7 linked regions of the Homo sapiens genome follow. The protein of the gene in region 1 purifies or fractionates together with the protein of each later gene. This does not show direct contact. Each region holds a gene or a part of one and is shown in the gene's direction. Other genes may lie near its edges. The genes, in order: RNF166, TMEM171, HLTF, TNKS2, KIF1A, XRCC1 and AMOTL1.

What was found.
Region 2: the proteins of RNF166 (region 1) and TMEM171 purify together in Homo sapiens (co-immunoprecipitation; one large-scale study listed by IntAct). This does not show direct contact.
Region 3: the proteins of RNF166 (region 1) and HLTF purify together in Homo sapiens (affinity purification with mass spectrometry; 2 studies listed by BioGRID and IntAct, with this or other methods). This does not show direct contact.
Region 4: the proteins of RNF166 (region 1) and TNKS2 purify together in Homo sapiens (affinity purification with mass spectrometry; 3 studies listed by BioGRID and IntAct, with this or other methods). This does not show direct contact.
Region 5: the proteins of RNF166 (region 1) and KIF1A purify together in Homo sapiens (affinity purification with mass spectrometry; 3 studies listed by BioGRID and IntAct, with this or other methods). This does not show direct contact.
Region 6: the proteins of RNF166 (region 1) and XRCC1 purify together in Homo sapiens (affinity purification with mass spectrometry; 2 studies listed by BioGRID and IntAct, with this or other methods). This does not show direct contact.
Region 7: the proteins of RNF166 (region 1) and AMOTL1 purify together in Homo sapiens (affinity purification with mass spectrometry; 3 studies listed by BioGRID and IntAct, with this or other methods). This does not show direct contact.

The regions. Positions count from the first base shown.
Region 1 is NC_000016.10:88,699,355-88,703,663, reverse strand, and holds part of RNF166 (E3 ubiquitin-protein ligase RNF166), read left to right. Parts: intron 1-82; exon of another isoform or gene 83-874; intron 875-2,245; coding exon 2,246-2,402; intron 2,403-2,713; exon of another isoform or gene 2,714-2,723; coding exon of another isoform or gene 2,724-3,044; exon of another isoform or gene 3,045-3,930; intron 3,931-3,931; coding exon 3,932-4,044; intron 4,045-4,309. UniProt on the Homo sapiens protein: E3 ubiquitin-protein ligase that promotes the ubiquitination of different substrates. In turn, participates in different biological processes including interferon production or autophagy.
Region 2 is NC_000005.10:73,118,903-73,123,834, forward strand, and holds the start of TMEM171 (transmembrane protein 171), read left to right. Parts: upstream 1-1,672; 5' UTR 1,673-1,794; intron 1,795-4,403; 5' UTR 4,404-4,471; coding exon 4,472-4,932. Other genes in the region: uncharacterized protein LOC124901001, read right to left, coding at 826-1,527.
Region 3 is NC_000003.12:149,076,064-149,080,372, reverse strand, and holds part of HLTF (helicase-like transcription factor), read left to right. Parts: intron 1-4,309. UniProt on the Homo sapiens protein: Has both helicase and E3 ubiquitin ligase activities. Possesses intrinsic ATP-dependent nucleosome-remodeling activity; This activity may be required for transcriptional activation or repression of specific target promoters.
Region 4 is NC_000010.11:91,860,485-91,864,793, forward strand, and holds part of TNKS2 (poly [ADP-ribose] polymerase tankyrase-2), read left to right. Parts: intron 1-1,514; coding exon 1,515-1,671; intron 1,672-2,452; coding exon 2,453-2,515; 3' UTR 2,516-4,309. UniProt on the Homo sapiens protein: Poly-ADP-ribosyltransferase involved in various processes such as Wnt signaling pathway, telomere length and vesicle trafficking.
Region 5 is NC_000002.12:240,809,733-240,814,041, reverse strand, and holds part of KIF1A (kinesin-like protein KIF1A), read left to right. Parts: intron 1-4,309.
Region 6 is NC_000019.10:43,565,169-43,569,477, reverse strand, and holds part of XRCC1 (DNA repair protein XRCC1), read left to right. Parts: intron 1-4,309. UniProt on the Homo sapiens protein: Scaffold protein involved in DNA single-strand break repair by mediating the assembly of DNA break repair protein complexes. Negatively regulates ADP-ribosyltransferase activity of PARP1 during base-excision repair in order to prevent excessive PARP1 activity.
Region 7 is NC_000011.10:94,872,689-94,876,997, forward strand, and holds the end of AMOTL1 (angiomotin-like protein 1), read left to right. Parts: 3' UTR 1-4,060; downstream 4,061-4,309. UniProt on the Homo sapiens protein: Inhibits the Wnt/beta-catenin signaling pathway, probably by recruiting CTNNB1 to recycling endosomes and hence preventing its translocation to the nucleus.

The DNA.
Region 1 (4,309 bases):
CCTGGGTGGGCGCAGACAGGAACTTCCTGTGGGGGAAGCGGGCACTACTCCCGGCTGCTGGCTCTCTGAACACCAGGCTGGCAGTCACTGGAAACTAGGCCGATAGAGCACCCACCCTGTGGGTGCCTCGTTCTGCCTCCTGCTCCTCGGGCCCAGCCGCCCTGCCAGTCGGGCTGGGTTCCCTCTTGTGTCTTTCCTGAGTCCTTCCGGGGAGGACGAGGCTGTCTTCCTCCCAGCCAACCTTCTGGGCACCTTTCCTCTCTTCCCAAGCTCTGCCTGGGACCCTTTTCCTTCCCCTCAGCCCGTGGCCGTGCTGTGCAGCCGAGCCCCGGCCTGGTCTCTGGCAGCTCAGGGTTCACTCAGGAGGTGCACCATCCAGTCGTTTCCAGTGTGTTTGCAATTATGCAACAATCGATGCAATTCTAGAAGATTCTTCCCACTCCAGAAAGAAACCCAGGACTCTCCCCCTCGCCTGGCACCCACCCGTCTGCTTTCTGGTCACTGGGTTTCTCTCTGCTGGACGTTGAGCGTGAGTGGACCCCCACGACACGGGTGGGACGTGCTTGCTGTCTGCCCTGCACTGTTTTCCAGGCCTTCCGGTGCGTGGTGGGGCTGCACGCCTCTTCCCGGCCGAACGCCCTTTCCATGGGTGTGCACGCCACGCCGTCTCTTCATCCGTTTACCGACGGGCACCTGAGCTGCTTCCGCTTCTCCTGCCATGAGTGCCTGAGTATGGGGGTCCCCTGAGGCCTCCCCAGGTGGACCATCTTGCCAGCACCTTCCTCCCGTGAACGGGTGAAGTAGGCGGCCCCCCCGGCTCAAATCCAGGGGTCAGTGCCAGGGATGACCCTGGAAATATCTGCTGGGGCGCCTGGTGAGAACTCGGGTGAGGTGGGTAAAGTGAGCGACCTCTTTACTCTGCAGAAAAAGGCTTGTTCACTTTCTGACGGGTCTCAAGCTGAGTCCCGCTTTCTCTCACACGAAGTTTCATGTGGGAGCCACCAGCCAGGTGGTGGCTCTGTGGGAATCCAGTGGTGGCAAAGAGGGCCTGGGGGACAGCAGGAGGGACTTAAGATGCCTGCTTGGCCACCTTTGCCTGAGGCCCTCAGACTTCCTCCTTGCAGAAAGGGCCTTTTCTTGAGGGATGTGGAAATCTCTTGACAGCAAAGAGGACTCTGGCCCTGAATTCAGCTGAGTCGTTTGTGAACCCAGGGCCTGCCCACAGCCCCTCTGTCCAGTGGGGCTCCTGTACCAGCCCTGTGGCCTTGCCAGGGAGAAGGGAAGCTACACCCCCGGGTGCTGTAGCCTTCCTGGGACTGGGGGGCTCTGCCTCAGTTCCAGCTCCTCGCCGCAGCTCAGCTGTCCCCACAGTGCTCCTCACAAGGCCAGATGTGGCTGCCCCAGTATTAAGCTCCTTCTCTGTGTTTGCACTGGGGGCTCTCGCGCCTGGTGCTCCCACTGGCTGGTGGTGCACCCCTCCAAGGGCTGTGTGCGTCTGCAGAGCGGGAGGGTGTGCGAGCCCAAGGAAGCCCCTGCTGCTGGAGCCCGGAGTGCGCACGGGGCTGTGGGACGCTCAGTCTGTCCTCACGATGTGGTGTCCCCAGGGGCAGTGCCAAGAGCCAGGGCCCATGGGTGCCCAGGACCCGAGCCTCCGCCCAGATGGAGCAGGACCCCCTCCTGCCTGCGAAGCTGTCCCAAGCCTGGTGACTGCCACCCAGCCTCAGGATGTGCTGCCACTTGGCTAGCTTTGGCCCTTCCCTGTCCAGTGCATCTGGAGCCCCTGGGGCCTGGCCGTTTCCTTTCCCACGATTGTTTGAGGTTTTATCCCCCAGAGTGTGGAGCCGGGAGAGTTTCCAGAGTCCCCGGGCTGTCCCTGCGCCCCACAGCCCACCCAGGTGTTGTCGCCACGTGAACGTGAACCTGGTAGCCCGAGCTGGGGCCTCCTGCCTATGGGAGCTCCTCTGGCCCACTCGCGGGGACAGCCATAGTGACGGCTCTGCCGCTAGCCAGAAACCACAGGGGCCTACTGTCAGGAGGGACCGGGGCCACCCTTTAGCCAGATGGGGCCCATCCAGCTGGTGGGCCCCGGACATAGGAGTGACCATCTCCAGAGACGGCGACAGCGGTAGGGGGAGCTGCCCCTGTGGACCCCACAAATGCTGGGTCCTAAGAAGGGCCCCGAGCAAGGCCTGCGGTTCGGGAGACCCGAGGGGCGGGCTGGCACTCAGGCCCCTGTGCCCTGCAGGTTCTGCGGGGAGTGTCTCCAGCCCTGCCTGCAGGTGCCATCCCCGCTGTGCCCACTCTGCCGCCTGCCCTTCGACCCCAAGAAGGTGGACAAGGCCACCCACGTGGAGAAGCAGCTCTCATCCTACAAAGCGCCCTGTCGAGGCTGCAACAAAAAGGTACCCGCCTGCTTGGGCCGCCCTGGAGCCGGGGTCACTTGATGGGCAGCCTCAGCCCACGGGTTCTGCAGAGGGTGGGGGCCGGGGCCCTCTCTCTTTCCTGTTGAGTAATCGCGGTCTCTGCTCCTGCACCAGGAAGCCAGCCCCGGCGCCTCCCTCCCCTCCCGTCTTCATCTCTCACTTCCTGTGGTGACGGCTGACGGGGGGGCCAGCCCGGTGGGGGTAGCACTGTCAGAGCCGCCTAGCCCGGGCCAGGGGAACCCACGTGGGTTGTGGCCAGGGTAAGGACCAGGGGGCTGAGCTGAAACCTTCCCAATGCAGCCTTCCCCTGCCAGCCGATACCGGGGACGGCGCTGGGGGCTCCAAGGTCACAAGGGCCGCGGGCACAGTCAAGGACATCTAAGGGCCGAGCACCCTCCAGCTGCCAGGAGGGCCAGAGCCGGGCTGATGGGCACTGCCACACCCACATCAGAGCAGCGTAAGGGCCTGCAGCTTGTCATGGGCCTCATTGGCCCCCATGTCCATCCTGTCCTGGTGCCTGGCCCGTGCCCCGTGGCCCTCCCTGGCACATCCGCTTCAGGGTGGAGAGGCCCCAGCCAGCGCCCCGTTCTTTCAGTGGCTTCCGGAGGACTGAGCAGCTAGAGGTGATTTTGCATTTGCGTTTCCCGACGTTGCCACATCTCAGGTGAATAAGTTCTATGAAGCGCTCACACTAGTACGTGGCCCCTCGGTGGTTTGTCCTCGAGGTCGAAGGTCCAGATGTCCAGGGGCTGCCCTGGACTCCAGAGTGGTGCGGCTGAGCAGGCTGTGGTCTTGGGTGCTTGGGCACCTCCCGTCTCTCCCTGCTCAGAGTTCTTCTCTCCTGGGCAGCCAGAAAGGATCAGAACCGGTCACATGCAGAGCGGCCTCCCGTATCCCACAGCAGCTCCGTTCTCTAATCTGGGTCTTCAGATGCGGCTGTGTCTCCCGGCACCTTGCTGGAATGTGGTGCATCCCTCGGAGTCCAGCAGCCCTTAGGCAGAGCTGGGTGCCGAGCTTGAGTCCAGGAGGGCCTCAGACACCTGCGATCTTGCAGCCTGTTGCCCTGGACAGTGGGTGTGCTGTGGGTGGAGGATGGCGCCCTGCCTCCACGGAAGCATCCCCAGCTTGCCCCTCAGTCACACGAAGCGTCTGTCCCCAGCCTGGGGCATTTCTGAGTGGCCTCCACTTGGCCTCTTCCTTTTTCTGGAGCAAGTATTTGAACTCCTGCAGGCGCCAGAGATCTCCTTACCTGTTTCCCGCTACCCTTCTCCAGCCAGGTTTCTGCCCTCGGCCAGATTGTCCTGCAGTGACTTGCTTTTGGCCATGGAGTAGTGGCTGCTCAGTGCCTGAGATTGTTTTAGCAGCAGAAGGGACCGGGTCCCCCTGCTGCTGGCAACACAGACGCTTGCTTACAGTTCTCTGGTCCTGGACACCTGAGGTCTCGGCCTCCCCAGGACGGCCCTTCCAGATTCTCAGGACCGCCTTGCCCTCCCTGCCCTGTCTCCTAGGTGACCCTGGCAAAGATGAGAGTGCACATTTCGTCCTGCCTGAAGGTCCAGGAGCAGATGGCCAACTGCCCCAAGTTCGTCCCCGTGGTGCCCACATCACAGCCTATCCCCAGGTAGGCACGCTGCCGGGCAAGGGAGAGGAACTGTCCTCGGCGGTTTCCTCGTTCTGGGAGCAAGCGCAGTGCCCCATCCCAGAGAGGCTGGGGGAGTCACCCGGGGCCGGGTCCACTCTGGGGAAGTGGACCTTCCTTGCCACCCTGCAGGAAGGCTCCTGTGCTGCCCTCCCTGGCATACCCACCAGGCCCCCTGGGGTAGGGACAGCTCAGCTGTGGGGAGCAGGAGGAGGGCGCAGGCCGGGCCCACACATCGCCTCCCAGC
Region 2 (4,932 bases), on another chromosome or scaffold:
GTGTGCTGCGGGAGAAACACTGAATGGTCAGCGCATCTGCATCTGGCTCAGGCCTTCTCTGCATGTCAACCAGCTGCAGAGGTTACTTTACCTCTGTCAGCCTGGACCTCAGTTTCCTCAACTGACAAATGACTGTTTTTCTCAGTCTCCTGTCCCCTGCTGCCTCCAACCTTTTCTGAACTGCTGGAGAGATGTAGCAAAGAACCACAAAGCAAGGGGTCGTGAGTGTTGGCATTGTTCATTTCGACAGTAATCAGGGCTGTTAGTTATGGCGGGGATTTACAGAGGTCGGGCACCCTGGCTATGAAAAAGTCCACCTTTGGCCACCCAGGCAAGTGCCCCACCAAATTCCAATGGCAAGAACTTGTCCGTTCTGCCTCCCTGGTGAACCCTAAAGCCCAGGTAACCCCCTCCCCTCTTTACCTCTCTGACTGGTTCTTTAAGTCTCTTCTCACCTCTGATGATTAGCTAAGCCTGCTTCATACTTTACCTTCAGTGAGCATGACCAGGAATCTCTTGTTGTATCAGGTAGGTAAAGTGCTTGCTTGCACATTGAAAAGTTTCATCCATTGGCCTTAACTCTAGATAGGGTTTCAGGCAAGGCAGACAGGAAGCTGAGAAGAGAAGGCAGGGCTGGGAAGTCCCCGTGGCTCAGGGCACCTCTGCGCTTGGGCAGAGAACCCTTGACTCACCTTCCACCGTGCCCTGACCCCTGGTGTGGAAACTAGCACAGTTGGATCCGTATCACGTGTCACGGGGCTGGTTACAAATAGCACAGGGATTGGCAAACTCATCCCGAAACTCCCGGTTCAAGGGCAGGGAAAGTTACCAGTTTAATTCCGGCAGATCATTAGTGGTGGAGAACCAGGAAGGGGGTTCTATCGCAAAGGAGGGCTGTGCGCAGACACGTGGGTGCGGGAGGGGCAGAGCTGGTCCGGCGCGGGGCTTGCCGCGTCTCGGCCTCAGTCTCGGAGCCAGGACCTCAGGCCTGAATGGCTGGGTGTGGAGGGCCCTTGTCTCACATTCTGTAGAGCGCACGTCGTCCCGTGACCTGGTGGCTCCATATTCGATGGGGAGCTCGCAGCGAGTCGCTTCCCTCTGTAACCCCACTCCAGGTCTCCAGAGCAGTAGGAGGGCCACAGGGCTGCTGGGTGTAGTCGCCCCGGACCTCGCGGTGGCCAAGGCCAAGGCGGCCGGGGCACGGTACCCTGTTCGGCCTGGGCCGCAACCACGAAGGAGGCGGTGGAGGCGGGGGCCGGCGCTTCCTCCGCGCCCCCCACGCCGCCGCTCTCTCGCGCCCCTATAGAACTGGGCCTCAGGCCTCGAGGGGGAGCGGGCCTCGGCGGGCGGGGCGCACAGTTCCGCCAGCCGGCGGGGGCATCTCAACTCGCCGGCCCCGCCAGGTGTGCGGGCCAGGCAGCCGTGGAAGGTGCCCATTTCTCCCAGATTCCTCGCGCGCACGGCCACGAGCGCGGAGGCTGCCAAACCCGCCAGCCCTGGGTTCCGAAGCCGCCCCTGGCTCTCCATTCCCTCGCGGGCGCGCCCCGGGCCCCCAGTGGCGGCCAGCTCCCACCGGTCGCTCCTGCACTGCCCTGCCCTGCCCTCCCCGGGCCGCCGCGCCCGCGCAGCACCGCCTCCTTCTCTAAATACTGCCGGGTCCGCCCTCCGCACCAGGACGCGCGGTGGGTAGGGTGCAGGGCGGCCGGCGCAGCCGAGGCCGCGTGCGGAGGCGGACGCCGCGCCCAGCCAGTGCCCACAGCAGCGCGGTCAGCCAGGCGCCGGACCCAGCTTCAGGTAAGCTGCCCCGGCCCGCGCGCCTGCGCCGGCGGCGGCGGGTCGGGCGCTGAGCTGTGCGGCCAGGCTGGGCGCGGGGAGCCGCGGCAGCGCGGAGGCGCTGGGTATCCGAGCCCAACCTGCGTCCCTGCGAGCCCCTCCGGCTGTTGCTTGCGCTCGGGCTCCCTAAAAGCCGCAAACCGATTTCGCACAGAAGGCATTTGCCTCTCGTTTCGTTCCCCAAACGCACCATAGCTTTGGACGTGGAGAGGTGCTGTGAATTTTGGAAATGTCTTTTGGAAAACCAATAGGAGTGTTGGAGAGGGGAGTTTGGCTTTGGGGAGTTTAAGTGTAGGGTGGTGTTTGGAAAAGGTTTCATTGCGAGTGAATGTGGGTGTCTTTGTATCCGTTTGTGAGTGCATCTGTGGGAGAAGGAGAGAGAGAGAGTATTTCCACACTATTATGGATCAGAGGTGAACACTCAGCCAGGTGCTCCGTCCACTAGTCCACGGACAAGAAACTACAGATTCAGTTTTGGGCTTCTATTTACTGGTGTTTGGGAATTTGCCTTAAGACAGTTGAAGCCTTGTGACTCACTGCAAAGTTGACTATACTGGGAATAAATGAATTCCTGATAGGACTTTGCAGCCGAGAATCACCCTTCTCTTTCTTGTCTCCGAAACCGCAAAAGAGATTGCATGATTCAGGAAAAAAATTAAAACAACAACAATAACAAAAAACCAATATATATAGGTTTCAGGACTCTCCATCGTTTCATTCCACTGAGAGTTTTGGAATGTACTCCCTGTAGGATAAATGAGGACTACTGTATACTCAATATGAAATTCTTATTCACTGCAGGATGTTACTGACTTAATAAAAAATGGGAAGATTAAAAAATTAGTGCAATGCTTTGTCTCAGCTTAACTGCATCTGTATATCAAGTTTTTCCAAGTTTGAAATGAAAGCTTTTTTCCCTCCTATATTTCCTTTTTTTCTCCAACTTCCTTCTGATTCTATCATACTTTTTCCTGGAAAAGTTTTTCCCAGTGTAAGATTGCCTGTTTGCTTTCTTTACCTAAACTGACCTTCCCTCAGTGTGATTTTGGTTTGTCAAGATCATCTTGGGCTTAGGGCCTCAGTCTTGAGTTCCTTCATGGGACCATGGATGTGAGCGGCACAAAATATTTTAAAAGTTTTCTTTCCTTGGGCAGGTGAAAATAGTCTTCACGATTTTGGATTGTCTTTGCAATTGCAGGACCTGACTTACGGGGTCCTGGTAAAATATCCCATTCATTGGAGTAAAATAAGATAACGAGATAATTAGGTCAGCTCTGTGTAAGCTAGACAACTCTTTAACAACCACTTGGCATATTTAATATATTATACCCCTGAAGTACAGGGCTTGGGTGATTTTCTGGAAGGTGCTTTCTCACTTGATTCCACTTATACTATTCTTTCAAAGCCAAGTTCCCCCCTTCCACCCATTTTGTGCTTTATAACTAGCAGTTTTATTGGCTGCTTGTTTTTTAACTGAGTCTCAACCTCTTTGTGGAAGTAGGTGACACCATGGAGGAGGGTGAGTGAGAGGCCACACCAGCCTTTGGGTACCTGTCCACTCTGAAAATTGAGCTCCTGTTGACCTGCTGTGCAACACTTTCCAGGGTCATCCCAGATCCAAGCAACTGGGTCACCAGTCTGTGCTTGTTGAGAACCCAAGAACCATTTTGTTTTGTTTTGTTTTGTTTTTGGCAGGGTCTCACTCTGTTGCCCAGGCTGGAGAGTAGTGGCGTGATCTTGGCTCACTGCAACCTCCAGCTCCTGGGCTCAAGCAATCCTCCCACCTCAGCCTACCAAGTAGCTGGGACCACAGGCACCATGCCTGGCTAAAGTTTGTATTTTTAGCAGAGATGGGGTTTTGCTATGTCACCCAGGCTGGTCTCGAACTCCTGAGCTCAAGCAATCTGCCTGCCTCTGCCTCCCAAAGTGCTGGGATTACAGGCGCAAGCCACCACGCCTGGCCTCAAGAACCACATTTTGATAGAATCAACTTAAAAGTCCACCAAACCCACTGTGTTCCTGAACAGACTTCTTATTCTATTGAAATTGCTGAAATTGGGTCTTTTGTAGATGTAGCCTTAGAATAAAACATGAAATGGAAAGCTGCTGTAGTCTAAAACAGGAAATGGAAAGTTAGTTACTGAACTGACTTGAAAATGCTGAGAGCAGCTATGATGAAAAGTGGGGCATTTGCAATCAGAAAGAATCCCTGTGGTTCTTCCCTCATTCACCAGTGCTTTTTTCCCCAGGGAAATGAGTTTGTAAGACTCAGAAAAGGAAATGCCACACCCAGCTACTTTTGTTCTTTCAGTTTTTAAAAAAGATACCCTTAGATGTGTAGTAATTTAATTTCCTGTTTTGAATATCTTGTAAAATTACATATTTAGGAGTTTCTGAATGCTAGTTTATCTGACTCATAAACCAACTCATTGTTCTACAGCTTATCAGTTGTATAAAGTTCTACCCCCAAGGCCTCATTGTGGTGTGATTTCAGAAATGATCAGCAAAAAACCAGGGTGGTTCTGGAACACCTGTGCCCACGTTAATTTGGTGTTTGGTTGTGTTTGCAGAGCTGCTGAAATCTTGGAGGGAAGAAAACACATCCCACCCTGCCTCCGGGAAGGGGCCTCTCCTGGACATGTCTCCTGCAGCTGCTGCTGAGCCAGATGGGGACCAGCAGGACAGACACGTCAGCAAACTCATCTTCTGCTTCTTTGTCTTCGGCGCCGTCTTGTTGTGTGTGGGAGTCCTGCTCTCCATCTTTGGGTTCCAGGCATGCCAATATAAGCCCCTCCCAGACTGCCCCATGGTGCTCAAGGTGGCGGGGCCTGCATGTGCCGTGGTTGGGCTTGGGGCTGTGATCCTGGCCCGCTCCCGGGCGCAACTTCAGCTCCGTGCAGGGCTGCAGAGAGGTCAGCAGATGGACCCCGACCGAGCCTTCATCTGTGGAGAGAGCCGCCAGTTTGCCCAGTGCCTTATCTTTGGGTTTCTGTTCTTGACAAGCGGCATGCTCATCAGCGTCCTGGGCATTTGGGTCCCTGGATGTGGCTCCAACTGGGCGCAGGAACCGCTAAACGAGACAGACACTGGCGACTCAGA
Region 3 (4,309 bases), on another chromosome or scaffold:
AAGGAATTTTTTAAAATTGAGATACATTTATTATAAAATTTACCATTTTAAAGTGTACAGTTGAGTAGTTTTTAGAATACTCACAAGGTTGTGCAACCATCCCTACAATCTAGTTCCAAAACATTTTCATTACTCCAAAAAGAAACCTCATTCCCATTTGTAGTCACTCCCATTATCTCTACCCCTCAGTCCCTGGCAACCATGAATCAGTCTTCTTCCTGTGTATATGGATTTACCTCCTCTTGACATTTCACGTAAATGAAATGATACAATATGTGGCATTTGGGTCTGGCCTCCAATACTCATTTTTATGTTAAATAGATTTTTTTTTTTAGTGTACTATTTTAATTCCCTTGTTTCTTTTACTATATATTTTGAGTTACTTATGATTGCTTTAGGGATTACAATTAACAACTTAATTTATAAGAACCTAGTTTGGATTAGTGCCAACTTAACAGTATATAAAAAACTTTGTGGCTGGGCATGGGGCATGGTGGCTCACGCCTGTAATCCCAGCGCTTTGGGAGGCCAAGGTGAGTGGATCACGAGGTTAGGAGATTGAGACCATCCTGGCCAACATGGTGAAACCCCATCTCTACTAAAAATACAAAAATTAGCTGGGCATGGTGGCACCTGCCTGTAGTCCCAGCTACTTGGGAGGCTGAGGCAGGAGAATCGCATGAACTAGGGAGTCAGAGGTTGCAGTGAGCCGAGATTGTGCGACTGTACTCCAGCCTGGTGACAGCAAGACTCTGTCTCAAAAAAACAACAACAAAGAAAACCCCAAAAAAACCTTTGCTCACAGCTCCATCCTATTGCCTTCCTTTGTGCTGTTATCCAAGTTATATCTTTATATATGTAGTATACCTATCAACAAAGATTTATAATTATATACTTTTTAATGAGATAGGACAAAAATTACAAAAAATTATACTTAAAAATTTTTATTTTTTTAAATAATTTTTTTTTTTTTTTTTTTTTTTTTTTTTTTTTTTTTTTAGAAACTGTCGTTACCCTTTTGCCCAGGCTGGTCTCAAACTTCTTTTGACAGTTTGATTATGATGTGACCAGGTGTGGATCTCTTTGAGTTTATTTTAGTTGGAGTTGTTGAGCTTCTTATATGTGTAGAGTAGTGGTTTCCATCGAATTGGGAAGGTTTTGGCTGTTATTTCTTTAAATATTTTTTCTGCCCCTTTCTCTTTTCTCCTTATGGTACTCTTATGTATGTGTGTTGGTATGCTTGATATTACAAGTTTCTGAGGCTCTGTTGTGTGTCATTTTTTTGTTCCTTAGATTGTATAATCTCAATTGACCTATCTTCAGCTTCGCTGATTTTTCTTATGCCTGCTCAAATTTGCTGTTGAGTCTCTCTGGTGAATTTTTTCTTCAGTTATTGTACCTTTTGACTCTAGAATTGCTGTTTGGTGAGACATCGTCTCCATGCTTTTAGACATGCGTTTTCATGTCGAAAGAAATGATTTGCTTTAGGTCTTTGAACTTATTTTTTTTTTTTTTTGAGACGGAGTCTTGCTTTGTCGCCCAGGCTGGAGTGCAGTGGCACGATCTCGGCTCACTGCAAGCTCTGCCTCCCAGGTTCACATCATTCTCCTGTGTCAGCTTCCCGAGTAACTGGGACTACAGGCACCCGCCACCTCGCCCGGCTAATTTTTTGTATTTTTAGTAGAGACGGGGTTTCACTGTGTTAGCCAGGATGGTCTCGATCTCCTGACCTCGTGATCCGCCCACCTCGGCCTCCCAAAGTGCTGGGATTACAGGCGTGAGCCACTGTGCCCGGCCAGGTCTTTGAACTTTTTAATTTTTTAGAGATAGGTTCTTGCTCTATTACCCAGGCTGGAGTGCAGTGGCGTGATCATAGCTCACTGTAACCTTGAACTCCTGCATTCAAGCAGTCCTCCCACCTCAGACTCCTGAATAGCTGGGACTACAGGCATGTACCACCATACCTGGCTAATTTTTCTATTTTTATTTTGTAGAAATGGGGTCTTGCTATGTTTCCCAGGCTGGTCTCAAATTCCTGGCCTCAAGAGATCCTCACACTTCAGCCTCCTAAAGTGCTGGGATTACAAGTGTGAGCCACCATGCCCAGCCCCTTTGAACATATTTAAAATAACTGACTTAAATTCTTTTTCTACTATGTCAAACATCTATACTTTCTTGGGGACAGTTGACATTGATTGCTTTTTTTCCCTGTGTATAGACCATACTTTCTTATTTTTTTTGCATGTCTTGTACTTTTTTTCTTGAAAAATTGACATTTTAAATAATGTGGCAGCTCTGGAAATCAGGGTGGTTTGTTGTTGCTGAGTTTTGTAATTAGTGTGTGTTTGTTAGGCTTCTAGGGTGGTTTGTTGCTGAGTTTTGTAATTAGTGTGTGTTTGTTAGTGACTTTCCTGAATTAATTCTGTGATGTCTATCCTTTATCGTGTGTGGTCACTGAAGTCTGTACTTGGTTAGCTTAGCGGTCAGCTGATGATTGTGCTGGAACTAATAAATCGTACATTCTTTGCTGAGAACTTCTGTATGTTAGGGCATTCCTTCAACACTCTAAGGCCCCTGACAACTCTGCTTTAGCTTTCACTTCTGGCTTGTTTAAATGCTCAAGTTCAGGCAAAGGTGAGCGTTTAGGGCCTTCTCAGGTCTTTCTTGAGAATGTGCACAGCCCTGGTCATGCATACCAGCCCTGTGCTTGCTTACGGCCTTCTAGATATCCAGAAATACACTGGAGCTTTTCAAAGCCCTCACAGACATCTCATTCCCTAGCTCTTCTTTATAAGCCTTTTTGTTTTTTTGCTTCAGCTGTTATCCACTGCCTCAGGTAGCCATGAAGTTAAAACACTTTCCTGTAAAATTGTTTTGACAAACATCCGCCCAAGGGAGGTTTTTTTGTACTTGGTGAGCTCAGAGGTTAAATACAGTCAGCCTTGCAAGTGGGGTCTTCCGGGGAACTTCAGGAGAATAACAGTTCTTTGGGAATGAATCTCTGAAAGAACTGTAACTCCATTCTCTTTTTTTCTGGTGACTGCCAGGCTTTACCTAGGATCCCAACAAGCTATTATTTTTATTTATTTATTTATTTATTTATTTATTTATTTATTTATTTATTTTGAGATGAAGTCTCGCTCTGTCACCAGGCTGGAGTGCAGGGGCACTATCTTGGCTCACTGCAACCTCTGCCTGCCGGGTTCAAGTGGTTCTCCTGCCTCAGCCTCCCGAGTAGCTAGGACTACAGGCGCGTGCCACCACACCCAGCTAATTTTTGTATTTTTAGTAGAGACGGGGGTCTCACCATGTTGGCTAGGATGGTCTTGATCTCTTGACCTCGTGATCTTCCCACCTCGGCCTCCCAAAGTGCTGGGGGCGTGAGCTACTGTGCCTGGCCGTGAGCTATTTTTAAAGGCTACAGGATTGCTGGGGATGGGACTGAAGTACTGATATTCAGCTGTTTATTCTTTTTATTCTTGAATAAATGTTACCCAGATTTCTGCAAGCCTTTGATTTAGTTCTCAGTGTTCTGAAACATTTGATTCTGACAAATAATTTATCTAGTTTTTTTGTTGCCTTTATTGAGGAATTTTTGAAAGTCCTCATTCTACCATTCTTTATTGTGTTACCCTCCTTCAGTTTTTAAAAATATACATCATAATATTTAAGTTAAATCATACAGTTTTTAATAAAGTAGAATCAGAATGGCATGAGTTGAAGGCTGGATATATTTTTCTTACCTAGTTCCATCCTGACTTATAAATGCCTTATTCCCTGACTTTTATATTCTGGAGAATTGAGGCTCAGGAACCACCCTGTGTGGGTTCAGATCCTAGCTCTGCTACCTTTTAGCTTTGTGACCTTGGGCAAGTTACTTTTCTGTGCTTCAGTTTCTTCATTTGTAAAATGGGAATAATGATAGTACCTCCCAATAGAGCTGTGAGGATTTAAAAAGTCAGTCTGTGCAATGTACTTAGACCAATGCTTGGCACATAGTAAGCGCTCAATAAGGGTTGGCTATTTTTCAGAAGTTATGATGTTGAAAATTTTAGATAATTTGAATTTGCTAGTTTACATTTGACTATTTTTTAAGACATTAAGGATTTGTTAACTTCCTAATGAATATAGATTAGAAAAATAATATTAAGGAGTCATAATAATATATATTAATATTTCTGTAGTTTGTGTCTAGAAAATATATTTTTCTTATGTGCAGTGTTTAGCAGTAGCATTAAAAAATGAATGGAAATCCCAGATAAAGTATAACAAAGTTATTGTCTATTATTTATAATGTAATATTATCTGT
Region 4 (4,309 bases), on another chromosome or scaffold:
GTGACACTGTATTTCTGACCACTGATCTAGAAAAAAACCCCTAGAGCAGTACTTTGCACTTTGGCAGCACATTGGAATCACCCAGGGAATATTAAAAAACTATTAATGCCTGTGTCCCACCCTCACAGAATCTCTTTTAATTGGTCTGGGGCATGATCTGGATATTAGAATTTTTAAAAGCTTCCCAGTTGATTTCAAAGGGCTTCCGAGCTGAAGAATTGCAGTCATGGAGGGAAACAGGTTCTTTCTTTGTGTTTGTTTTGTTCTTACTGTTACCCCTCTAAATTTAGGCCTGCATAGGTAGTACACAGTAGGCCCTCCTATGTATGACGTCCCACTCACTTCTATTTTAGATCATAAATTGGAGTGGTTAGGAGGCATGTAATTTCCTGTAAATTGAACACTGCTGTTTTTATTTGTCATATATGGTCTGAAGGCTAAATAGTTCTGATTATTAGTAATAAGCAGCATTCTAATACCTCCCTCTTCTTTGGAAGATAGAACCATCAACTGGTCTACAGAAATCTCCTGTTATCTTCTAAAAAGAAACAATGACGTTAATACTAAAAGGTTGTTTGAAACTAAGAAAGGCTAGTCACATGCCTGAGAGGAGTGAGAGGGTAATCTACTGAAACTGGTGGTGAGGGGAGACTACCAGTTTACTTCCTATCTAAGGAAGTAACATTTCAGCTGAAGTCTGAAAATTGAGTGGGTATCAGCCAGTGGAAGAGTGGTAAAATAGATAACATTCCAATGGTGGAGAAAATTCTGTGGATGGGGACCATTAATAAAGCAAGTTTGGCCTTTGTGAAGAAAAGAAAACTAATGTGCATGGGGCATAATGAACATAAAATGAGATTCAAGAAATTGGAGCCATTGTACAGAATTTGGATTTTCTCCCAAGTACAGTGACAGCCTCTAAAAGGTTTTAAGCAGAAAAGTGACTTGATCTAATTTTTGTTTGTTTTAATTAGTTGGATGGGAAAGGTTTGGACAGGAATTACAGAAGAAACAGGAAGACTGGTTTAGAAAGCCATTGTGTGATAGTCCAGGTGAATATTTCAGTGATTTGACTTAATAGTGACAGTAGAATTAAGAAAAGTAAATGGATTTCAAATATATTTTGAAGGTAAAATCAACTGGAGTTAATTAGATATGTGTCCAACTTTGCAAGCCACTTAATGGAAGTCCACTAAACCTTCTCCTTCCCACTTGGCCAGTGACTTTTGTTTTTTGCTGAGATACAAACAAGGTGGTAGAGTCTGTATCTCTATAAGGTTATTACATTTTTCAGATTTTATAGTTAAAATAAGGACTAACTAAATTGACAAATTATTTCATTAATAAGAGTAATAGAAGACATTCTTAAAAAGTTCTTTTAGGGGTGAAATGATAAAAACAATTATAAGTATTTATGTATAAATAATTTTTTAAAACTTATGCCGTGTCCACACATTGTCATATTTATGTATCAAATTTGACTTCAGGGTGATCTTTTCCTTTTCGTTTTATAGGCAGCTGCTCTTTTGCCGGGTAACCTTGGGAAAGTCTTTCCTGCAGTTCAGTGCAATGAAAATGGCACATTCTCCTCCAGGTCATCACTCAGTCACTGGTAGGCCCAGTGTAAATGGCCTAGCATTAGCTGAATATGTTATTTACAGAGGAGAACAGGTAATGTAGTTTTATTTGTTCATCTTCAAAAATGCTAGGGAGGCATACTTTAACTTTTTATTAATCTCTTGAATTGACAAGACATATTGCCTTAACTGGATTTTTTAAAAATTTTATTTGGAGATAATTTCAGATTTGGAAAGTTACAAAAATAGTAAAGAGAATTTTCTTATAACCTTTACCTAGATTTCCTAAATGTTAATATTTTGTTCTCTTTTTTACTCTTACCATTCTCTCCTTCTTTCCTTGTGTGTGTACCTATTTTTTTGTGAACTGTTTGAGAGTAAGTTGCAGGGCATGTCCCTTTACCATTAACTATTTCAATTGTAAATTTCCTAAAAACAAGAAGATTTTATTCAAATTTCGCCAGTCGTTCCGGATTTTTCTTAGCTCTTATAAATAATTGAAATCTTGTATTTAACAGCCTGTCCATAGCAAAGAAGTATATAACTGTGTTTTGCTCTCAGTGAGAGCCAAAAGTAGTTCTAGAGCAGTGTTGTGAACTGGGAGTAGGTATCGGAATCACCGCAGTTACTAAAATCAGACATGATTTTAGTCTTATCTGATACTTATGAACTTAGTATTCATCTTAGACTTGCTGATTGAAAATCTGAAGAACTGTACTCAGGGTAAAGATGTTTTGAGAAAATGTCCCTAGATGATTCTGATCTACAACAGTAATTTAGAACCTCCTCCCTAAGATTAGGAATACTTCCGGAAAGTCTGTTTATCTTTCAAGAAAATTTTTGTACCATTATTTGAATTTATCTTTCTCTTCCAGGCTTATCCTGAGTATTTAATTACTTACCAGATTATGAGGCCTGAAGGTATGGTCGATGGATAAATAGTTATTTTAAGAAACTAATTCCACTGAACCTAAAATCATCAAAGCAGCAGTGGCCTCTACGTTTTACTCCTTTGCTGAAAAAAAATCATCTTGCCCACAGGCCTGTGGCAAAAGGATAAAAATGTGAACGAAGTTTAACATTCTGACTTGATAAAGCTTTAATAATGTACAGTGTTTTCTAAATATTTCCTGTTTTTTCAGCACTTTAACAGATGCCATTCCAGGTTAAACTGGGTTGTCTGTACTAAATTATAAACAGAGTTAACTTGAACCTTTTATATGTTATGCATTGATTCTAACAAACTGTAATGCCCTCAACAGAACTAATTTTACTAATACAATACTGTGTTCTTTAAAACACAGCATTTACACTGAATACAATTTCATTTGTAAAACTGTAAATAAGAGCTTTTGTACTAGCCCAGTATTTATTTACATTGCTTTGTAATATAAATCTGTTTTAGAACTGCAGCGGTTTACAAAATTTTTTCATATGTATTGTTCATCTATACTTCATCTTACATCGTCATGATTGAGTGATCTTTACATTTGATTCCAGAGGCTATGTTCAGTTGTTAGTTGGGAAAGATTGAGTTATCAGATTTAATTTGCCGATGGGAGCCTTTATCTGTCATTAGAAATCTTTCTCATTTAAGAACTTATGAATATGCTGAAGATTTAATTTGTGATACCTTTGTATGTATGAGACACATTCCAAAGAGCTCTAACTATGATAGGTCCTGATTACTAAAGAAGCTTCTTTACTGGCCTCAATTTCTAGCTTTCATGTTGGAAAATTTTCTGCAGTCCTTCTGTGAAAATTAGAGCAAAGTGCTCCTGTTTTTTAGAGAAACTAAATCTTGCTGTTGAACAATTATTGTGTTCTTTTCATGGAACATAAGTAGGATGTTACATTTCCAGGGTGGGAAGGGTAATCCTAAATCATTTCCCAATCTATTCTAATTACCTTAAATCTAAAGGGGAAAAAAAAAATCACAAACAGGACTGGGTAGTTTTTTATCCTAAGTATATTTTTTCCTGTTCTTTTTACTTGGTTTTATTGCTGTATTTATAGCCAATCTATACATCATGGGTAAACTTAACCCAGAACTATAAAATGTAGTTGTCTCAGTCCCCTCCAGGCCTCCTGAATGGGCAAGTGCAGTGAAACAGGTGCTTCTTGCTCCTGGGTTTTCTCTCCATGATGTTATGCCCAATTGGAAATATGCTGTCAGTTTGTGCACCATATGGTGACCACGCCTGTGCTCAGTTTGGCAGCTATAGAAGGAAATGCTGTCCCATAAAATGCCATTCCTATTTTCTAATATAAAACTCTTTTCCAGGAAGCATGCTTAAGCATCTTGTTACAGAGACATACATCCATTATGGCTTGGCAATCTCTTTTATTTGTTGACTCTAGCTCCCTTCAAAGTCGAGGAAAGATCTTTACTCACTTAATGAGGACATTCCCCATCACTGTCTGTACCAGTTCACCTTTATTTTACGTTTTATTCAGTCTGTAAATTAACTGGCCCTTTGCAGTAACTTGTACATAAAGTGCTAGAAAATCATGTTCCTTGTCCTGAGTAAGAGTTAATCAGAGTAAATGCATTTCTGGAGTTGTTTCTGTGATGTAAATTATGATCATTATTTAAGAAGTCAAATCCTGATCTTGAAGTGCTTTTTATACAGCTCTCTAATAATTACAAATATCCGAAAGTCATTTCTTGGAACACAAGTGGAGTATGCCAAATTTTATATGAATTTTTCAGATTATCTAAGCTTCCAGGT
Region 5 (4,309 bases), on another chromosome or scaffold:
CTTTTCTAGGGTTTTTGGAATCTTGTACTTCATCTCTTACATTTTTCATCTCTAAAATCTTCACGTTTCTAAATGTTCTGTCTCATAGCATTCTGCCCTTGTTTTGAAAATGAGCATCTTCTTGAATCTCCCGGGTGCGTGGACAGAGGTTGTGCTCGGTTGTTTCGCGTCTGTTCCATGCTTTGCCTGTCCTTCCCGCAGGGCCTGTTTTCTGCTGGCAGCTCTGGTCCTTCCCTTTCACACTCTGTTCTCACGCCCGAGGAAGGCATTAGTTGGCACATCATGTGTTAGGGAGGCCATTGGCGGGAGCGGCAGGGCTGCTGCTGCTCACCCCGGAGTGGTTCTGACCAGAGCTGGGGTGGGGTGTCCATGGGGGGTGGGGTGTCCATGGCAGGCCCTGGCTTAGGTGAAGGGGTGGGGCTGGCTACCAAGCTGCCCCTGCATATCAGAATGAGGGGTACTGCATTCTTCAGCTCACTGAAGGCTTCACTCCTGCTATGGAGAAAGCCATTCAGCTGCTCACCTGGGGGCACTGGCAGTGACCACCCTCGGAGGGTGGATGGCGGGGCTGGGGGTGCGGGCTTCCATGTTAGCCTCACTTCTCACCCCTGCCTTCCACCAGGTGCCTGAGTTCCCATGCCTGAGCCCCTGCCCCTTCCCTGCCCTCTGCAAGCGGCACTCAGGGCTGAGGTCCCAGGAAACGCCTCTCCCACGCCCTTTGCAGTTGGGGGCTGTGTGGTGGGCTCTGGCCCTATCCCATGGGGTCTCAGAGCAACCAGTGTGCCTGCAGTCATTGGACCTGGGGCTCCTTACTCTCCAGGGGTGGCCAGGACACTCCTCTATGACAATCGGTTGTAATTCTAAGAAAAACCTGCTGTGGTTTTTTTCTCAAACTCTTCAAGAAGGATCAGTGTTTCAGGAAGTGGCCCATGCCGATGCTTTGTTCTGGGCTGGCCCTGCTGGGTGTGCACATGGCGGGCCACTTGTCTAACTGGGAGCAAGTGGATCCTTGAGGTGAAGGCAGATCCCCGAGGTGAAGGCGGATCCCCGAGGTGAAGGCGGATCCCCGAGGTGAAGGTGGATCCTTGAGGTGAAGGCGGATCCCCGAGGTGAAGGCTGATCCCCGAGGTGAAGGCGGATCCCCGAGGTGAAGGCGGATCCCCGAGTGAAGGCTGATCCCCGAGGTGAAGGCAGATCCCCGAGGTGAAGGCTGATCCCTGAGGTGAAGGTGGATCTTGAGGTGAAGGCGGACCCAGAGGTGAAGGCAGATCCCAAGGTGAAGGCGGATCCCCGAGGTGAAGGCGGATCCCTGAGGTGAAGGCTGATCCCTGCCTGAGGTGAAGGTGGATCTCGAGGTGAAGGCTGATCCCTGAGGTGAAGGTGGATCTTGAGGTGAAGGCGGACCCAGAGGTGAAGGCAGATCCCGAGGTGAAGGCAGATCCTGAGGTGAAGGCAGATCCCTGAGGTGAATGTGGATCCCGAGGTGAAGGCAGATGTCTGAGGTGAAGGTGGATCCCCAGGTGAAGGTGGATCCCCAAGGTGAAGGCAGATCCCGAGGTAAAGGCGGGCCCCTGAGGTGAAGGCAGACCCAGAGGTGAAGGGCGTCTGGGCTCCAGGCGGATGCCTGTGCGATGCTCTGCAGCATGGGCCTCTCCAGCAGCTGGGCAGGGAGTGCCTGTGCCAGGCCTGTGTCTGGCCCTCACCGTCACCCCATGCCTGGTCTTTCCTGGACACTCCTCGAGCTGAGGCACGCTTTGTCATCTGCCTTGGTGCCACCCCCAGCCCCCTTCCACAGGGACTTGGCTTTTTCTGCTGATGCCCCCACCCCAGGGTGAGGCAGGAACCTGAAATGGTCCCAGAGCCCCAAAGCAACAGGGGAGTTCCTCCGGGGCCACCCTGCCCTCTGTGCCTGCAGTGACTTGCGGGGCGTGGCCCGGTGCGCCCAGTGGGTTTTCTGCATGCATTTTTACCAAGTGAATGGATTCTGTTCCCCTCTCCTCTGTCCTGGGGCCCCTGGCTCAGGGCTCATGGTCTCCCTTTCCTGGAGTCATCACAGCCGGCTGGCCATACCCACATACCCACATGGATGGCCACCATCCCCCAGCCCTCTTTCCCTCTCCTGCCCTCGGGCCATCTTCTCTGCCCACTTCCTGTGGGTGCATCCTGGGTCTAGTCAGAGCCTCAGACACCCGTGGTGTTGCCTCTATGTCCCCAGCGCAGACCCCACCCTGCCACCACCAGCTTCTCGGCATCTTCTTTGGCTCTGAGCAGTCATCCCAACCCCTCTGGCTTCCTCCCTGCCACCCTTGAGCCTGTGCCCTCATCTCTGGCCACTCCAGCCAGCGTGACCTCACCCCACAGGACCAGTTCATGCTTCTTGTTTCTGATGACTTCCTGCCCCACCTGTCCCAGAGGTGCCCCTCTCTGTCTTTGAGGGGAGCTCACCCTTTCTCCTGGGCTCTGGCATGTGCTGTGTCTGGCACTGTGGACCGCAACCCCCCGCCTTCTCAGGGGTTCAGCTGTGTCAGACCCCCATCCTCAGCTTTGCCTTCTGCCATCAGCCACGCCCATAGGCTCTGGCCACCCTTGGGGCCACGTGGCTCCCTCTCAGGTTGGCTGACAGAACAACTTCTTGAAGATAGTTTCTTTTCTTTTCTTTTCTTCTTTTCTTTTTTTTGAGATGGAGTCTCACGCTGTAGCCCAGGCTGGAGTGCAGTGGCGCAATCTCTACTCACTGCAACCTCTGCTTCCCGGGTTCAAGTGATTCTCCTACCTCAGCCTCCCAAGTAGCTGGGATTATGGGTGCCTGCCACCACGCTGAGCTAATTTTTGTATTTTTAGTAGAGACAGGGTTTCAACATGTTACAAGCCAGGGTGGCCACTAACTCCTGACCTCAAGTGATCTGCCCACCTCGGCCTCCCAAAGTGCTGGGATTACAGGCACGAGCCACTGCACGCGGCCAATAGTTACATCTTTAAAAATTGTGTCATGTGGTAGCAAAAATATACAACAAGGAATACAGAATATTACAACCAACGGCCACATGCCCACATTAGCTTTCAAAATAAGGCATTTCCAACCTGCTCCCCAAGGGTAGCACTGGCAGAGGGCTCACCACCACCCGGCATCTCGGCCGACCCACATCACCCTGGGGAGGAAGACGGACAGATGGGGCCTGGCGGGAAGGAGGTCCTTCCACGTCACCATGGCGGGCACATCGAGTGGCCTTGGTGGCGTCCAGGCCCTTAGACCCCCTCCACGCCCAGCACCATGAATTCGGTGCTGATCGCTCCTGGAGTGTCATCGTCTGCCCTGAGTCTGTGGAGTGCTGCTTGTGTGTTTGAAACTTCGAGGGGCCTGCAGCCGACTCTGCATTCATCTGCATCTTGGATGCTGGGCATTTGGGCTGTCTCCATTCTTTTTGTAATGATAAGTCATTCTGCATTTGGGTGTATTTCTCCCTGTGAATATGTATAGCATCTCTACTTGCAGAGTTGCTGGGGCACAAGGTCTGCAGCCCCTCCAGATGTTACCATGTTATTTTCAAAGTGGTGGCACCCGTTCACTCCCAAGGTGAGCTGTAAAAGCTCCTGTGGCCTCCTTCTGACAGCGTTTGGTGTGCCCTACTTTTAAATGTTGCCATCTGGTGGATACAGTTTGAAAATATGGTTTCCGAATTACTATCGTGGTTGAGTATCTTTTCATGTAAATTGCCAGTTCATATCTTTTTGCCCATTTTCTTCTGTGATTTTTGTAAATTTTTATTTTTATCTGTCCTCTGTGTATTCTGCGTACAAATCCTTCGTTGAATTGTATGTGTTGCAGATACCTTCTCCAGGTGGGTGGGGTTCTCGTCACCGTTTTAGTGATATCTTTTGATACCCAAACTTTCATTTTGGTGTTTTCGGTGGGTTAAGAAATCTTTCCGGCTGGGTGCGGTGGCTCGCACCTGTAATTCCAGCGCTTTGGGAGGCCGAGGTGGGTGGATCACTTGAGGCCAGGAGCTTGAGACTAACCTGGCCAATGTGGCGAAACCCTATCTCTACTGAAAATACAAAAAATAAAAATAAAAATAAAAATAGGTGTGATGGCACATGCCTGTAACCCCAGTTACTTGGGTGACTGAGGCACAAGAAACTCTTTTTTTTTTTTTTATTATACTTTAAGTTCTAGGGTACATGTGCACAACGTGCAGGTTTGTTACAAAGGTATACATGTACCATGTTGATTTGCTGCACCCATCAACTCGTCATTTACATTAGGTATTTCTCTTGAATCCTGGTGGCAGAGGTTGCAGCGAGCCAAGAT
Region 6 (4,309 bases), on another chromosome or scaffold:
TTGAGACAGGGTCTCACTATGTTGCCCAGGCTGGAGTGCAGTGGCACCATCTCAGCTCACTACAGGCTCGACCTCCCGGGCTCAAGCGATCCTCCCACCTCAGCCTCCTCAGTAGTTGGGACTACAGGCATGTGCCAGTTCACCAGTCTAATTTTTGTATTTTTTTTGCAGAGATGGGGGTCTCACTGTGTTGTCTAGGCTGGTCTTGAACTCCTGGACTCAAGCATTCCTCCTGCCTCAGCTTCTTAAATCCTTGGGATTACAGACATGAGCCACTGCACCTGGCCTATTGTCATTTCTGTATAGTATTCTGTTGTATTGAGATAACTATTATGGTTTTATTTATTTATATTTGATTTTCTTTTTTAAACGGAGTCTCACTATGTTGCCAAGGCTGGTCTTGAACTGTTGATCTCAGGTGATCCCCCAACTTGGCCTCCTGAGTAGCTAGGACTATAGGTGCACACCACCACACCCAACTAATTTTTTTTTTTTTTTTTAAGCTTTTTGGAGGCAGCTTCCTGAGTAGCTGGGATTACAGGGATTACAGACAGAGCCACAAAGACCTGGCCATTGGGGTTTTATTATATTTGCTTTCTGAATGGGTATTATATGCATATAGTGCAAAATTCAAAAGGTGCAAAAGGGTATACACTAAAAAGAAAATCTCCCCTCACCCTTTCCATCCCTCCCTGCTCCCTCCCCAACTCCTGCTCCCTCCCCAACTCCTGCTCCCTCATTCTTCTCTCCTGATGCAACCACCATTAGCAGTTTTTTTGGGTGGTCTTCCTGGGTCATTCTGTACACATACAAGCATATATACCTACCGCCTCCATCCCTTTTTAAAAAATTCATAGTATATACACTGTTCCCTTGTGTGTTTTTTTTCAAGTAACAGTGTATTTTGGAGATGCACACTGCATGAAGTTCTACCTTATTTATTTATTTATTTATTTACTTACTTACTTACTTACTTACTTTGAGACAGAATCTCGCTCTGTCACTCAGGCTGGAGTGTAGTAGTGCGATCGTGGCTCACTGCAACCTCCCCCTCCCAGCTTCAAGTGATTCTCCTGCCTCAATCTCCCTAGTAGCTGGGATTACGGGCACATGCCACCAGGCTTGGCTAATTTTTGTATTTTTGGTAGAGATGGGGTTTCCCCATGTTAGCCAGGCTGGTCTTGAATTCCTGACCTCAAGTGATCCTCCTGCCTTGGCCTCCCAAAGTGTTGGGATTACAGGCGTCAGCCACGCCGTGCGCAGCCTACCTTATTCTTTTAAATGATGCATACAATTGCATTTCATGGCCGGGCGCGGTGGCTCACGCCTGTAATCCCAGCACTTTGGGAGGCTGAGGCAGGTGGATCACGAGGTCAGGTGTTCAAGACCAGCCTGGCCAAGATGGTGGAACCCTGTCTCTACTAAAAATATAAAAATTAGCCAGGTGCAGTGGTGGGCACCTGTAATCCCAGCTACCTGGGAGGCTGAGGCAGGAGAATTGTTTGAACCCGGGAGGCGGAGGTTGCAGAGAGCCGAGATCGTGCCACTGTACTCTAGCCTGGGTGACAGAGCAAGACTCTGTCTCAAAAAAAAAAAAAAAAGAAAAGATTGCATTTCATGGATGTGAAACAGTTTTTTAGCAATATATCTCAGGAACTTTGCCTTCCTGTGCCATGTTTGTTTCAGGAACAGTTCATATCAGAACTGTGTCTCCCTGAGAAAGCTGCATGCACACGAACCCAGGCCATCGGTGATAGTCATCTTGTGCTCTTATCCTCACAGCTGATACATACTGAGCACTCATCTCTTATTTTGAGAAAAATTCACATAAAATTTACTGTTTTAACCATTTAAAGTGCACATTTCAGCCAGATGCGGTAGCTCACACCTGTAATCCCAGCACTTTGGGAGGCCAAGGCGGGTGGATTGCTTGAGGTCAGGGATTCGAGACTAGGCTGGCCAACATGGTGAAACCCCATCTCTACTGAAAATACAAAAATTAGCCGGGGGTGGTGGTGCGTGCCTGTAGTCCCAGCTATTCGGGAGGCTGAGGCAAGAGAATCACTTGAACTGGAAGGCAGAGTTTGCAGTGAGCTGAGATTGCACCACTGCACTCCAGCCTGGGCAACAGAGTGAGACTCCGTCTCAACAAAAAACATAAATAAATAAATAAATAAAGTGCACATTTCAGGGTTTTTTTTTTTTTTTTAGCATATTGACAATGTTCTTCAACCATCTCCATTCTCTAATTCAGAATATTTTCATCACTCCAAAAAGAAACCACATAACCATTAAACAGTCACTTCTTATTCTCTCCCCAATGTTGCCCTTGGCAACCACTGATCTACTTTCTGCTTCTCTGGATTTGCGTATTCTGGACTTATAAATGTATACGTGGTCTTTTACACTTAACCTTGTTACACTTTGCATAATGTTTCTGAGGTTCATCCATGTTGTAGCATATATCACAACTTCAGTTTTTTAAATAACTGGATGATATTCCATAAATATACTGTACAATGTTTATCTATTCATCAACTGATGGACATTTATTGGGTTGTTACCATGTATATATAAACCTTTTTTTTTTTTTTTTTTTGAGATTGAGTCTTGCTCTGTTGCCCAGGCTGGAATGCAGTGGTGCAATCTCGGCTCACTGCAACCTCTGCTTCCCAGGTTCAAGTGATTCTCGTGCCTCAGTCTCCTGAGTAGCTGGGACTACAGGCGCATGCCACCATGCCCAACTAATTTTTCTGTTTTTAGTAGAGACGGGGTTTCGCCGTGTTGCCCAGGTTGGTCTTGAACTCCTGGGCTCAAGAAATCCACCTGCCTTGGCCTCCCAAAGTGTTGGGATTACAGGCGTGAGCCACCACCCCAGCCTCCATGTATAAACATTTTTATCAGATTCTTAAAAAGTATTTATTTACTTTTTTTTTTTTTTTTTTTGAGACAGAGTCTTGCTCTGCCACCCAGGCTGGAATGCAGTGGCATGATCTTGGCTCACTGCAACCTCCGCCTCCTGGGTTCAAGCAATTCTCTGCCTCAGCCTCCCGAGTAGCTGGGATTACAGGCGCCTGCCACCATGCCTGGTTAATTTTTGTATTTTTACTAGAGACGGGGTTTCACCCTCTTGGCCAGCCTGGTCTTGAACTCTCCTGACCTTGTGATCTGCCAACCTCTGCCTCCCGAAGTGCTAGGATTACAGGCCTGAGCCACCGTGCCTGGCCACTTTTTTTTTTTTTTAGATGGAGTCTCACTCTGTCACCCAGGCTGGAGTGCAGTGGCATGATTTCGGTTCGCTGCAACTTCTGCCTCCCAGGTTCAAGTGATTCTCTGGCCTCAGCCTCCTGTGTAGCTGGGATTACAGGTGCACGCCACCAAGTCTGGCTAATTTTTATATTTTTAGTAGAGACAGGGTTTCACCATATTGGTCATGCTGGTCTTGAACTCCTGGCCTCAAGTGATCTGCCTGCCTTGGCCTCCCAAAGTGCTGAGATTACAGGTGTGAGCCACTGTGCCCAGCCTGTTGTTTTCTCTCTTGAGACAGAGTCTCACTTTATCACCCAGGCTGGGGTGTAGTGGCTCGTCTCAACTCACTGCAACCTCCACCTCCCAGGTTCAAGTAATTCTTGTGCCTTAGCCTCCTGAGTAGCTGGGATTATTGAGGTGCGTGTCACCACACCCAGCTAACTTTTTTTATTTTTGGTAGAGACAGGGTTTTGCTATGTTGGCCAGGCTGGTCTCGAACTCCTGGCCTCAAGTGATTCTCCCGCCTCCACCTCCCACGGTGCTGGGATTACAGGCGTGAGCCAGTGCTCCTAGCCAGGACTTTTTTTATATACAAAGAAGAAATGTCAGGGAGTGCCTGTTTAAAGTAGAAATAGTTATATATGCAGTAGGAATTGTTCATTTAAAATACAAGCATCTCCATCCTACCACATTTAGGAGCTATGCTGAATATTGTGGGAGAGGTAAAGATGTTGAGTTTGACTCAGGGATGGAAAGAAAGGAGTTGAGAACAGTGGTGGTATTGGACAGTGCTTTGCAGTCAGGCAGTTGCGTCCGAAGTACTCTGCTAGTTATTAGCTTGTGTGCCATGTAAGCTATTGATTAAACCTGTCTGAGCCTCAGTTTCCCCATCTGTGAAACTGGAGTCGTAACAGACCCTTCTATTTAAAGTGGTTTTGAGGCTTCAGTGATGCCCGGCCCATGCTTAGCCAAGTGTGGTGGACAGAACAGTGGTGCTCAAAAGATGTTCATGTCCTCATCCCCAGAACCTGGAAATATTTTAATGGCCAAAGGAGCTCTG
Region 7 (4,309 bases), on another chromosome or scaffold:
CACCTCCTCTAGTCTCACACTGAGCATCGGAGTACCTGTTGTGCAGACAGGAAAACTGAGGAGCTCTGAGAGGCTGAGCATGGAGCTCACCCCATGCCATAGGGTGTGGGAAGAGGGCACAGGAGGCCTCATCCATGGGGGAAAGGGTTGAGGATGGACATGGGTGGGGAGAGGGCATAGACATCCCTTCCTAATCTCTGTTCCCACCACATTTCATAGGAGATGAGTTAGGAGATGACAGCTAACTCTCTTAAGGACATTTTGACCCCAGTTTATGTTGGGGATGGACCAGAAAGGAAAATGTCTAGAGATAGGAAGGTAAATCAACTCTGCCAGCCCCTACCATCAGGTCTGGGCCACCCCAAACTTGGGCTGCCTCCCTTAGACATAGGTTAGAGTGAGAGACCCAGCTGTTTCTCCCGAAGCCTCGTCTTCATGCCCCAGACACCTGATTGCCCCAATCAGGTGTCAGACTTGCTTGCTCTTCGAGGTCCCCCTGAGCTGCCAAGTGTTTTCATTGTAAACAGACACATCGCCATGTTTCAGGGCTTCAACGGCATTGTATTTTGGACTTTGACCGTATTTTTTTTCTCTTAACCTACTGAGACTCTTCCTTAAGAACAGGATCTATAGCTTTAAAATGTCTTCTTCTATGGGAAATTTCCTGCCAAGCCAGGGCACTAAATTCTTTCATCATTAGAGCTTTCCTGAAGTCCGGCCATATACTGAGTACCTGCTCTGAGTTCTGGGCAGCTTACAATATCTTAAACAGATTTTCAGAAAAATAATGCAACTATATTTTCTAGTGTCAACTGTATGCAAACAGTGTGGTAAATACCTTTTAATTAGTCCTCCACCCACCTGGAGTACAGGGGGTGCGTTTATTATTCTGATTTCACTGATGAGGAAATGGGCTCAGAAAGGTTAAGTCCCTTCCTGAAATCTCACAGCCAGGAGAAGCTAGGATGATTTAAAACAAAGTTTGGAGAGGCACTGGGCATAGACCCTGGCTGTACAGCCTCTAACATGCGGCACTGCATCTTGGCAGTCTCTATGCCTGTCTGTGATGTGTGTGTGCACGTGTAACTACACACACACACACACACACACACACACACACACACAGCTATCACACATCTCAGAGCCTAAGAAATAGGACTAAGCCCAGAACTCCTAGAATCACCTATAAATGCTAGGCATAGATGGAAATTATTGTGTTCCACCAGAAGCACAGCTCCAAACTATACCTAAAAAATATTTCTGCACTTCCCAGAGACCTGGACTTCAAACTTTCCCAGTGGAGCCTGATTATAGAACTTGAGGGTCCTATCTCAGGATGAAGGGGAGAGGCCCTGGCTTCACGGGAAGGTATTCCAGCATTGTTCTGCTTCACCCTTGACTGCGTTGTCTGGCAGTTTCTGTGTGCTGCCAGGATATTATATGGAACTGGAGAAGTTGGAGTCAGGTCTCTGAAGCTAGAGTTTCACTAATTAGATGCCTCTGTACATGAGAACTATTACTGTCTGCAGGTCCATATAGCTAAGCTGCCAGGAAAAACACATTATCTTCCAAAACTTTCAGAGCATGTGCAGAACCCTTTCTTAGCGTTTTCTTCTCAGCATTTTCTCTGCCTCCCAGAGGCTGGCAGCCAGTGACACTGCAGAGTTCAGCATGTTCTAACCATGCACGCAGGGCAGGGGCTGCCTTGGCCCTCCTCAGGCTTTCGTTGGGAGAGCAGGCAGTGGTGGAGCCCTTCTGGGTGCAGTCCTCTGGGGTTGCTCTTTGGAACTCATGTATGAGTTTGACTCCACAAGGCTTGGCATGGATACCAAAACAGTTGCAACAAATTAGTTCTGAACCTGGAACAGAGAATTCAGTGCTTCTGTTACTCAGGAAGGAGGTGTTCAGAATGCCCCGTGCAGAGCAGCCAGTCATTACTCTTGTTTGTTCTCACCTGGGTGCGCACCCTCATGATGCAGTGGCTGTAGCACCTTCATGCCAGGTGCTGAGAGAATGGGAAATTCTTCCTCCCCATTGACCTGAGTCCCAGAGACTTAGGGACACAGACTTCAGGTGAGGCTGCGGACCTCAGAAGCAGTGGATAATAGATTGGGGCATTAAAAGCTTTTGAGGCAGGGGGCTCATGTTTTGACTGCAGGGAGTTATGCTGAGCAAAGAGATGTGTTTTTCAAAACCAGGGTTCAAAACCAGTGTCCACGCTGGAGTAAGTGGAGCATGCTTCTCTGTGTTCTCTGAATGATCTTGCACTCCTCTTAAGCAAAGGAGTACCATGACCATAGTCAGTGGGATCCCACAAATGTTCTTAAATGGGTAAGGCTTTAAGTAGCCAGAGAGTATCCAGCCTACCATTGGCTTCTCCACATCCTAAAACCTGAGACAGCCTTGGTATATGCTTTATAAATGTTTCTTTTCTTGTTGTTTAAGTAATTAAAGTGTTTAAAATGTCTTCATTAGATGTGACGATTGTTTAATGAGTTTGCCTCTGACGTGTGGCTCCATGGGAGATAGGCAAAGTAATTAAGAAGTTACCAGAAATTGGTCGGCTGGGGAAATGCAAAAGTTAGCATTTCAGTAGTGAATTTCTCCTGGAACAAATGAGCAATTTTTCCTCTTTCTCTTAAGTAGTATACCCTTTTCTCACTTAGTAATTTAATGGTATATAAAGACATGTGTATAAGTGAGTGCATACATATGAGGTATGACTATAGGGTTGTTTGTGGGAATTTCTTTTCCTAACATACAGAAGATCAAAGTGTTCATCTCACCCCGCCCTCCTTAAAAGGTGTCTTTTGGGAGACTATGTGCTCATTGACTATAGTGCTGCCAAGTAAAAATATCTTGGGAACTCTTCTACTAGAATGGCCTTCAGGGCTTGGCATGTTCCTTTGGTTTACCCTTAGAGATGAGAAATCCTCCTCCTTTGAGGATGGATTTAAGTTCTGGAAATAATCTCAAGTGCTTGATAGCACAGTTGGATGAAAAAAGATGGCAATTAAGGTAAGTTACACCATTTTTGTTTCTAAAAAAATCCCTAAGAAATTTCTTGGAATGAGTCTTTGGCCTCAGAGCCTCTCAAAGTGTCCACTTCAAGGGGGGATCATCCTCATTAGCACACAGATTTTTAAAAATCAATTCTCTTGCCATGCCTCCTATGTGTTCACATCTCTGCATACACTACAGATATAAGTGCATAATCATTCATATAAACATCTGGTAGGTATTCTGTAAAACTGTGTTTACTTTAGTGCATGTTATTGTCATGTTATGATGTGACTGGGGTGTTTCTTTGTCATGAAACTTTGCTTCTTCACAGAATTAGAATACTGCTCTCTCTATATTGAACTACATATACAGCGTTTTCTTGTATCAGCCCCCAAAGTCTGGATGCCCGGTGTTGTGTTTACATGTGATTGTGCCTAGGAGTCTGTTCACATAGAGACACCTGTAAGTATTTATTACAAAACGGAATGTAAGCAAATATATCCACATTGGTTTTATTTGAATCAAGGTGTTTTTTTGTTTTTTGTTTTTTTTCCTTTTGAGGAGGAACAGGGAGCCTCCTCCTCCATGAGCACTTACAGAATTGTGTAAAATTCTGTGAAACAGTGGTAAGCATGGGCACCCGATTTCAGCTGTCCTGCTGCCGCTGCCCTCCAACCTGCTCTGTGTGTGTGTGTCGCTGTGCTTGGTGGCAGTGTGCCGTGCTCGTGCCGGCTCTTCCCAGCAGACTGGTATCTGGCTGTAACGTTTGACGTCTTCATATTGCCAGTCTGTATTGAGGGGTGATGTACATGGCCATACAGCCAAATGGGTCTGTGTACCAGTGTGGGGATTCCAAGAACACTGCCTGTCCCCCACAGCAAATATTGATGCTGTTGGTCAGCCAAAGATTTTCCTCTCCTTTGCTGCTTAAACTTGTGCCTTAATATTGTACATAATAAATGGATAAAATGGCAAAATGACTCTTTTCTCTCGCTTGCTCCTTTCTTCCTTAAAGAACTTATAAACTGATGCTCAATAAATGTTTCATTTCATTGTACCCCACTTAATGTTTTGCTTCAGAGGCCCTCGGCTCCCCCCTTGTGGGCCTCACGCTGACACCAACACGCAGCTCTTGACTCTGAGGAGGAAATGAATCATCCAGACCATCGCAGCTTGCAGCCCGCCCACTCCTGGCTCCTCCAGACAAATAAGGAGAAAGGAAACGCAGGGAGACTGTGTGCCTGGGTGTCCACTTTGATCACATGTGAGTGTCCACTTTTGAGGTTCCTTAGTTCAGAGCCTGCAA